Linked DNA regions of Homo sapiens. The protein of the gene in region 2 interacts with the protein of the main gene of each other region in a biochemical or structural test. Each region holds a gene or a part of one and is shown on either strand. Other genes may lie near its edges.

Region 1 (5,335 bases), on a different chromosome or scaffold from region 2:
CTCTGCCTGTTTACCAAAGCTTCTTTACTTCCTCAATCTATTTTATTTTTAAATGTCAGAGTAGTCTGAAACCTTTCAAAGATATTCAGGCTGCAGAAGCAGAGGAAATATTAGGATACATTCTTTAACTTTTGTGAGAGCTTTTAAATAATCAATGGATGGACTTTTCGAATTGTTATATATCACAGTACAGATATTCTGACATTAAACCATGTGAAGAATAAATATAGTTTAACAACAAAGGGCATGAGGCCATCTCTATTTCTAGGAAGTCTGTGAAATGGCTCTTTAGAGTACAGACCAGAGGCACAAAGAGAGTATTGCATTTCCAAAGAATACAATATAATAAAATTTAGTTTATCAATGAAAATTAGAATATTATACAACAAATGAAAATAGTAAACACAATCTTTGTTTTAAATATATTTTTCAAACTCCACTTGGAAATCCACATATATTATAGAACAGATTTTAAAAATGTAGCTGTTGCAATATTATTTATTAAAAAGCAACAAAATGAGAGCAAATTATATTTAAGCTTATACTATAAAAATATTTTCCAATATACTTAAAACACGAGAGCCACATAGCTAAAGCAAATAGTATTTGAAAGATCTTACACTGGATATGTAATAGACAAGACATTTCTCACTGTAATAAATTAATTTCTTTGTTATACAAAACCCCTCAACCGTAACTTCATGAAGAAATGTGAAGTGGTATGAAAATGACCTTACCTCATATTCAAAGTCTTCTGTTCTGTCTGCATCAGCAGGCAAGCTGGAAATATACTCATTGTCCTCATAAAATTCATGCTCCATTGGATGTAGAGAATGGCAGCTATGGGGAATGTAGCAATATGATAGGAATAGATTAAATGGGTTGTTTTCCAGATTAAAACTGATTTTAGAATTTCACTTTAGTTTGCTCTGCTTTGGAATAAGATCTGTAGTGATCTAGTCTTTAAACAAACTACAGCTGAGGAAAAGCAATAGCTTTTCTTTCTCCCTCTACGTGAAGTCCATCAATTTGCAATTTCTGAGAGAATGCTAGGAATAAGGGCCTATGGTCAGAGTTGTATTCTGTGGAAAGACTGATGTGAAATCTCTGACAGTCCGTGGTGCTTTATTGATACTTTCTGGCCTGCTTCCATTCCACTGAATGTGACAAGCTCCATACGTGGGTGTGTGGCATTTGAGATTGCAGTCTACTCAAAGAGGGGTATTTTGTCATAAAGTACTACCAATTTCATAATCCACAGCTGCAAACTATTTTTTGAAAACCATTTTCAAAAGCACTTATTTTTTCAGACTCTAAAATGTGCTCACATTGTCCCCTCCTCTCTTTCTTAAGATCCCCCTTTCTCACTCTCCCTCATAATGCACATTTTCCCCTCTTTGATCAAGGACATATACACAAATATTAAAGAACATTCATGGCGATCAATCAGTGGAAACTCCTATAAGCCACAAGGTTTCAAAATACCTTTAGAAAATTCTCAGTGACAGAGAGAGCAGATTACATTAAGGAAATGAGAGGATATGGCTTTTATGTATTTCAACTTTTAGGAAATTTTTAAATAGTTTGTAAACATGTTATTCGATTTAGTATGTTCTGATATAAAGACTACACATCATACCATATGAAGACTAAGCATAGTTTAACAGCAAAGAGCATAAGGCCTTTTCTATTTCTAAAAGACACTGAAAAAGCCTAAATACAATTGACAAGTTGGTTGCAGATGAGACCTCTAACTCCTGCCAGTGTGGATCTTTTTGAAAAATTGGAGATAGCAGTATCAATTAGTTCCCTTCTCCCTTGTTGAAAGGCAAGAGACCCATCCTCATGCCCTCATACTATAGTCAGCGTAAATATTCTACCAGCCTCTCCTCACTACTATCTATGGCTGTCAGCTCCACACAGGTCTAACTAGTGTAGGCCAAAATGGTAAAAGTAATACAGGCAGCACCTTGCCTTGTGTCTACCAGATAAATCTCCTTGCTTATAGCTGGACTGGGTCCGCATAGCCCTTTTGGGCTCTTGGAATATCGAAGCCTGCTGCTTTGGACATCTGATGTGTTTCCCTTGTCTTTCGGATAGTAAGAAGGGAGCCCTGCTGTGAGGAACACTTTATTCATTCGACGTTTATTTAGTGGCTGCCAGATGCAAGGCCAAGTGCTGGAAATATGTTGGTTTACAAAATCCAATTCTGCCCTATTAATTGGGGAAAGCAGCAAAGTGGGAATTTTAATACAGTGCAATAATTAAGGGAAAAATACAGGAGCCTTGGGAGCACATGGTAGGGGTGGACCCACTGCAGCCCTAGGAAGTTTTCTAGAGGAGGTTGTCTCTAAGCTAAGGTCTGCAGGACCTAGGAAGAGCAGCAAGATGCACTGGCTAAGGGGGTAGGCATTGGGGTCAGACCTCTTAGGCCTAGAAGCCTGGCCCTGTCACTTTTTTGCTATGTGATCTTGGCCATGTTACTTAATATCTGTTCCCTCATCTTAGACATAGAATGTTGATAATATAATGTACTCCCTCCTAAGATTATTGTGAGAACTAAATGAGTCAATAAATGCAAAACGTTTGGAATAATACTGAAAGCATGTTAAGTTAGCTAATACAAGCTAGCTATTATTATTCATTCAAGGAAGTATTTGTTGGATGGCTACTATGTTTTAGGCTGTATTAATGAATATTATATATTTGTTTCCTTGCTTTTTGTTCAACTCCCCTTGTAGAATATAAACTCTAGAAGGCAGTGACTTTATTTTTGTTCATAGTTTTATGCCAAGCATCTAGTTGCAAGCCCTGACACATCCAATTTGTGTCTGATACAAAGGGCTATTTAAAATAAAGAGATACCCAAGACAAACAGATCCCCTGCCTTCCTGGAACTCGAAGTCTCAAGAAGTGTTTTCAAAACTTGGCTGCACATTAGGATTGCCTAGGGAGACTTTTGAAAATTTCTGATGCCTAAGCCTTACTCTAAGAATTCTCATTTAATTGGCCTAAGGAGTGATTCAGGTACTGATACAGCTTCTGAAAGTTCCCAGGTGATTCTATTGTACATCTGTGACCCACTGAAACGGGCTTATGGGAGCCAGCCATCAAAGGGCAGGAAAGTGGCATGACTCAGATCTTTGTTTTATGAAGTAGAGAGCGGATTGGAGTAGGTGATGAAAATGCAGGCTAAGGAGACTATTGCTCTTACAAACTCTCAATGTTTGAATATTTGCTCGAAAGCTCACAGAACACAATGAATTGGGCAAGCATACTTTTAAAACTGTTCAAGTAGGATTATTTGAATAAAATCTCTCTGACTTCCTTTAAATTAGGCAAAAATCAGGAGGAAGTATTCCTTGAATAGATCTTTATTTGATAGCACTATACTTACTCTCTGACAGCCAAGATCCTTTGTTTATATCTCAATATATTGGGTAAGTGCTTTCGTCAGAGAATTGCACTTTAATTAAATCAATTTCCTAGCTTCTCTTTAAAGAAGAGAAATGCAAGGAAGAGAGAGAGGTGGCCCACAGAGGAGAATGTGGTGCCAAGATGCCACTTCCACATGAGTCTTAATAAGGTTTTTGGCAGCTTTGGTGAGAAAAGTGATTTCCCTGACCAGTGTTCATGAGTAGCATGAGGCTTTTGACAGCTAGTAATATGAAGATGAACTAATCAGAGCCAGAATTTTTCACAGCAGCTAGCAAGTATGATTACCCAGGTGGAGCAACCATGTGGGTCAGGGAGAGTAGCTAGCAGGGACCACTGAGAACTAATTGCACATATCAAAACAGGGGAGACATTTTCCAAACGGAGCTGGGAAGCCTGTCTCCATAACTGTCAACCTGCTAGTGGAACTGCTTCTTTTCAACATCTGCTTTACGTGACAAATGGAAACAAACAGGGCTTTGGAAGAAATGATAGAAAAATACCTGTCTGAGAGCAGGAATGGACAGATGTCTGGCACTGGAGGGGTAGGTGGACGAAGCTTGGCCAGAGCCATGATGTGTTCGAAGGTGATGTCCGTCTGAGTGCTGGCATTCATAAGCTGCACTTCTGAAGCCATCCCATAGGCTGGTCTACTAAGAGGTGTTCGCCTTAACACCTGCACCACAATGGGCTCCTTGGCATTGCGAAAAGCTTCCACTGCCTCTTCATGAGTGGCCTTTGAAAGATCCTTCCCATTGACCTACAAACATATAAGGACATTGTTCATCTCAGAGGAAAGATCAGAGAGGCTGTCATGATAGATTAATAAAAGACAGAGAGAAAGGTTTCAACCAGCCCTGATATGAATTTTGTAATGGAATATTTAATCAGATATTAATATTTACTGAAGTCTTTACCAACATGATGAAGTACCTGAGATTACAACAACAATTACTTCTGTATCTTTATAAAGTATCTGGAGTTGGTTAACTAGTAAAACAGCAGAACTATTAGCAAAGATTTAAAAATTTAAGTAACACATCTGCTTCAGAAAAGGGTCACCGAAGTCTTCAGATAGTTAGAAATGTTAAGTATATCCTACTTTTTCATGATCTATCAATCTCTCGGTGAGATTTTCAATATTTAATCAAGGTCTTACTTGCCTAAAATTTAATTTTTTAAGATATTGTCAAATTTCCTCCATATTCATAATGTTTTAATCCAAGACCATGTTATTGCCCATGTGCATTTTATCCTAAATCCTCACTGTTTGAAGTGTGGTCTGTGAACTAGCAGCATCAGCATCACATGAAAGATTATTAGAAATACAGAATCCCTGGCACCACCCTGGACCCACTGAATCAGAATTGGCATACTCACAAGATTCCGGCTTTATATTTATATTCACTGAAAGAAGCAATGCTCTAAAATTCCTCTGAATGGGTATATTATGTCCCTCTAGATACTCACTTGTTTTAATTTCTACCAATTCATGACTCTCCAAGGTAGCCCTGGACATTACAGAGAAAGAGGTGAAGTCTCCCTTTGTCCTCAGTCATTGCTTTTCAACAGGGGCAGAAACCATTGGCATTTGGGAGAGAAAAATTATTCTTTTTGTGGGACTCTCCTATGCCAGCTTACCAAGGGCCAGGAATGTTTCCCAACCTCTGTGGTTCCCAAAACACCTACACATTTTCCCTAGCAAACTTGTGGGAGGCAAAACAGACCACTCTCAAATATTTGTCAATTTATTCCCCTAAAATGAGTCCTGATAACACAGCCTTTTAGCGGAAGTTGTGTTTTAATAAAGGACTCTAGAATCCTGAAAGAGCTTTATGACTCTCGCCCCAGATGAATCGATAATGCTGGTTTTTGCAGATGTGAAGAGCTATCTGGTGGC
Region 2 (5,335 bases):
AGGATGACCTTTACTAACCCAAAGCTTCAGGAGATAAAAAAACAAAAGAACCACAAATTGATATAATAAGGAAAAAGTGAGGTATTACTGAGCTAGGTAAGGATAAGTTCAGGTATAGTTCAATACATAACCTAGCATGATGTAACTCTAACTGGCAAGAATTTATCAAATTTGATTAATCAAATGATTAATTTTAATTAATTTTAATTAATCATATTTGATTAATTTTTGCAAGTTAGAGTTAGGCTAATAAAGCTATGTGTAGATGTTTCTATCCTAAAAGCTGAAAAGTGCTCTATTTTAAATTTGCATTATAAAGACGTCTGACAGACATTTCAAAATTTTTTTTTTTTTGAGATGGAGTCTCGCTCTGTCGCCCAGGCTGGAGTGCAGTGGCGCAATCTCGGCTCACTGCAAGCTCTGCCTCCCGGGTTCACGCCATTCTCCTGCCTCAGCCTCCAGAATAGCTGGGACTACAGGCGCCCGCCACCACGCCCGGCTAATTTTTTGTATTTTTAGTACAGACGGGGTTTCACTGTGATCTCTCGATCTCCTGACCTCATGATCTGCCCGCCTTGGCCTTCAAAATGTTTTTAAACATTAAAATAACTCAGACCTATCTCCATATTCAAAAATCAATGCTATTAAATAAACAGAAATGAGATACCATGATACACTTATTAGAATGACCAAAATCCAGAAAACTGACAACACCAAATACTGGAGATGGTGTGGAACAACAAAAACTCTTATTGTTGGTAGGAATACAAAATAGTTCGGGCACTCTGGAGGGCAGTTTGGGAGTTTCTTACAAATCTAAATATATTCTTACCATACAATTGGACACCCTGGTATTTAACCAAAGGAGTTGAAAAGTTGCATCCACACAAAAACTTGCATAGGATGTCTATAGCATTTTATTCATAACTGCCAAAACAGAAGCAACCAAGATGTCCTTCAGTAGGTGAATGAATAAACTAAGGTACATACAGACAATGGGATATTATTCAGTACTAAAAAGAAATAAGCTATCAAGCTATGAAAAGACATGGAGGAAAATTAAATGCTTATTTCTAAGTGAAAGAAACCCATGTAAAATGGCTACACACTGTATGATTCCAACCGCATGAGATTTTCCCAAACGCACAACTATGGAAACTGTAAAAAGATCAGTGGTTGCCAGGGGATGGAGGAGAGGGAAGGATGAATAGGTAGAACACAGAGAATAAGCTTAGTGCAGGGACACTATTCTGTATACTATAATGCTGGATACATGTCATTATACATTTGTACAAACCCATAGAATGCACAACACCAAGATGTGTGCACTCTGGGCTCTGGATGATGATGATGTGTCAATATAGGTTCATCAACTGCAACAAATGTACTCTTGTGGAGGATGTCGATAATGCATATGTACATATGTAGGGACGCAGTTATTTGAGAAATCTCTAGACCTTCCTCTCGATTTTGCTGTGGACCTAAAACTGCTTTAAAATATGAAGTCTATTAAAAAACAACAAATCCAGATAAACTGACTTAAATCTAAAAAATAAAACTGCAAGATTCTTAGGAGCAAACTTGGGTAGCTATCTTTTAAACCCAGGATAGGGAATAATTTATTTAAAAGGGCATGAAAAGCAATTACAGTAAGTCCTCACTTAACACTGCTGATAGGTTCTTGGAACTGAGACTTTAAGAAAAACAATGTGCTTCAGGTCCTTTAATAATGCTGTTTCGCTCAATATCATTTCTTTTCTTTCTTTTTTTGAGACAGGGTCTCACTATGCTGCCCAGGTTAGAGTGCAATGACACGATTCCAGCTCACTGCAGCCTTAACTCTTGGGCTCAAGTCATTCTCTCACCTCCACCTCCAAAGTAGCTGGGACTACAGGTGTGCATCACCACTTCTGGCTAATGTTTCATTGTTTATAATATCATTTCCTTAGAACACTGATGAGAAAAAAGAAACTGGTTTCATTATAAGTTATTTTGCTTAAAGTCAGTTTCCAAGAACCCGTCAATGACATTAAGTGAGGACTTACTGTATGATAAACAATGGACAAATTTGACTTAAGAATTTTTTTTATCAAAAGATGCACAGCAATGACAAAAACTGTATTTAGGATTCCGAGTTTGTAAACTTCTGAACTAGTAAACTGTTCAGAAGATTAATATTTTGCTTTATATCCAGTATTAAATCTGATCAACTCCAGCATTTTAATGGCAAGCTATGAAAATACCTAAATAACTGACTCACATAATCTTACGGAATATACTGCCCTTTAAACAAAAGAATAAAATATTATTAATGACTAATAATAAGTAGTTTGCAACAGAGAGGTATGGAATTGGAAAATAAGCAACTGATGAAGTGTATGTATAATTTTTGCTATTTCTTTGCTTCTGAATTTACTCATTAACTAAATCAACCTAGCATTTGGGTGCCTAGCATGTGTGAAGCAATACAATATTTTATACAACTTCCTATGGCTGTTCATTTGGATAGTTTACAAATCCCCAGGCCATAAACTATTAATATAACTTTACCCTTTCTATACCAAATGTACAATAGATATTAAATACAAGCCTGTTGATGATAACGATGTAAATTATTCCAAATATTTGCCAAAGAAGGTAGAGGCATTTAAAACTGTCCCTCCCACACAACTCCATAAAAGAAAGCGAAAAAGTTAGGAACTGAAAGAAGACATTCACAATGTACACAGAGGATTAACATAAGCAATATAAAGAACTCTTATAAACTAGTAAGAAAAACAAAAATAGGCAAGAGACATAAATAGGAATTTCACTGAAGAAGCCACGTAAAAAGGCCGACAAACATAAAAAGAAGTGTTCTACATCAGTGATAACCAGGAAAATGCGCATCAAGACCACAATAAGGCAACATTTTACACCCTTATGATTTGTAAAACTTAAAAAGAGAATATCAAGTGTTGGAGAGGATGGATAACCAAAGGATCTTTTATTTCATATATTGCTAATATGAATATAAATTGGTGCAACCATATTGAAAGTTCTGCATCATCTCTTAAGTTGAACATTCACCTACCCTGTGAGGCAGCAATGCTACCTCTAGGTATATAATAGGAACTGTGGCACATGCACAGTAGGAAACATGCAGACTGTCCATAGGATCTTTGCTTATAATTACAAACAAAACAAAACAAAAAATGGAAAATAACTGCCCAACAAGGGAGAGTGGATAAATATCCAAATATCCACCAAAGTAGAGTTAATGAATATTTTACTCAATGAAATATTATATAGCAATTTAAATAATGACTATAGCAACATGCAAAAATGTGGATAAATCTTATTTATAACAGGTGAAAAATCAAGTTCAAAAAGATTATATTCACAATTCTATACAAACAACTAAAAGATGTTTAGATTTATATGTCCAACTAAACTATACACAGTAGTCTCCTTTTATCCACCGAGAGACCTTCAGTAAATGCCTAAAACCACGAACAGTACTAAACTCTATTTACACTTTTCCTTTAACATACATACTTATGCTAAAGTTTAATTTATAAATTAGGCACAGTAAGCAATTAACAATAACTAATAATAAAATAGAACAATTATAACTATACTGTAATTACAGTTATGAGTGTGGTTTCTCTCAAAGTATCTTAGTACTTATAAATATCTTATAGTACTATACTGTACTCACCTATTTTTGGACCACAGTTGACCATGGGTAACTGAAACCGTGGATAAGGAGGGACTACTATATAAGGAAGAGAATGAACACAGGACTCAAAAATGATGACCTAGATGACAAGAAGGTGGAAATAGACGGATAGAATAGAGGAAAACTATACGTAGGTTAAAGTTCCTAGCTTGTTTTGAGAGAGGGGGAGTGGTGGTCCATGAGTACTTATTAAAATGATTGACAGACAGATAGGTGATTAATCCAATGCAGTGTGCCTGATGTTTAACAAATTTTTTAAAAATCCAAAAGTTGCATAAAATTTGTTCAATGAAAATTCTGAAATGGAGAACAAACACCTCCTTAAAGAATCCCTAAGGTAGCAACTACAGGGAAGGGAAAACAGTATGATTAATGTGTAAAATATATGATACTCAGGCCAGGCACAGACGCTCACATCTGTAATCCTAGCACTTTGGGAGGCCAAGGCAGGTGGACTGCTTGAGTCCAGCAGTTCAAAACCAACCCGGGCAACATGGCAAAACCCCGTCTCTCCAAAAAAATATAAAAATCAACCATGCATGATGGCTCACACCTATAGTACCAGCTACTTGGGAGGCTGAGATGGGCGAATCACTTGAGCCCAGGAGGCAGAGGCTGCAGTGAGCCGAGATCACGTCACTGCACTTCAAGCTGGGTGACAGAACGAGATCCTGTCTCAAAAATAAAAATAAAAATAAAATAAATAAAAAACTCTCAGCACATGTATTGTGTGGTATGTCTTCTATAATCAAAAATAAATTCCAAATTTTGTCATAACTACATTCCATTAAATTAAGGTACTTATGAGCCAGGGCAGTAAAACTTTCACCAATTTGATAAGTCACTGACAAATTTCTAAAAGAGATAAATCCTAACAATATTATGTAAGTCTTGTATATCCACTCATCTTTATGAGGCACTTCAACACTACCTTCACATTTAAGGTGTTTACTGTCATCAAGTACACTGTCCCATGCTTTCTTGATCTTCATTTTTTACAGGCAATATTTATGTATATAATGTTACACAAATTTCATTTTTGTGATTGCAAAAAAAAACCAAGTATGATAATAGAGCTAGTTTCAAACAAGATTTCATCAGATAAAATTAAGACAAGCTAGACATGCATCAAGATAAAGATTCTCTATTTCTGTTTCATTAAGGAATTACTTTTTCATTAGTATATTTTTCCCACTCTAAATTTTAAATCTTTTTAAAGCTTTTAACTAGTTTTCAACTTTGCTGTCAAGTTTGAACTCTGCTGTATATCAAAAGTTGATCATATTAAATGTCATATACTGTAGAGTAAAATTGGCTTTTGAAATAATATAGACATTTGACAATTATCAGCACAGTATATTTTATGAGGGAATAATGTAGAATTAACTGTTTTATTCAAATACCATTTATGGTATGAAAGTAACATTATTTTAGGTGATGTTTACAAACTACTACTTTATTTGTTTAAAAGTAAACATGCTTCTGATGAATGGCATGAAAATTTACCATTGCCAAATTCAAAAAGCAGAAATAAGAGAGCCCAAGGAATCAGATGCTAAGCTCTGGGATAAAGAGATGATGTCTAAAAGGTGCCCCTACTTGTCCCTATTTCAA

The links. Proteins that work in one complex are often made in the same cells at the same time.
Region 1: the proteins of PKN2 (region 2) and PDZRN4 interact in a test that uses a peptide from one of them, tested with the Homo sapiens proteins (one large-scale study listed by IntAct).

Annotation. Positions count from the first base shown.
Region 1 is NC_000012.12:41,505,316-41,510,650, reverse strand, and holds part of PDZRN4 (PDZ domain-containing RING finger protein 4), read right to left. Parts: intron 4,196-5,335; coding exon 3,939-4,195; intron 841-3,938; coding exon 738-840; intron 1-737.
Region 2 is NC_000001.11:88,690,146-88,695,480, reverse strand, and holds part of PKN2 (serine/threonine-protein kinase N2), read right to left. Parts: intron 3,758-5,335; exon of another isoform or gene 3,701-3,757; intron 1-3,700. UniProt on the Homo sapiens protein: PKC-related serine/threonine-protein kinase and Rho/Rac effector protein that participates in specific signal transduction responses in the cell.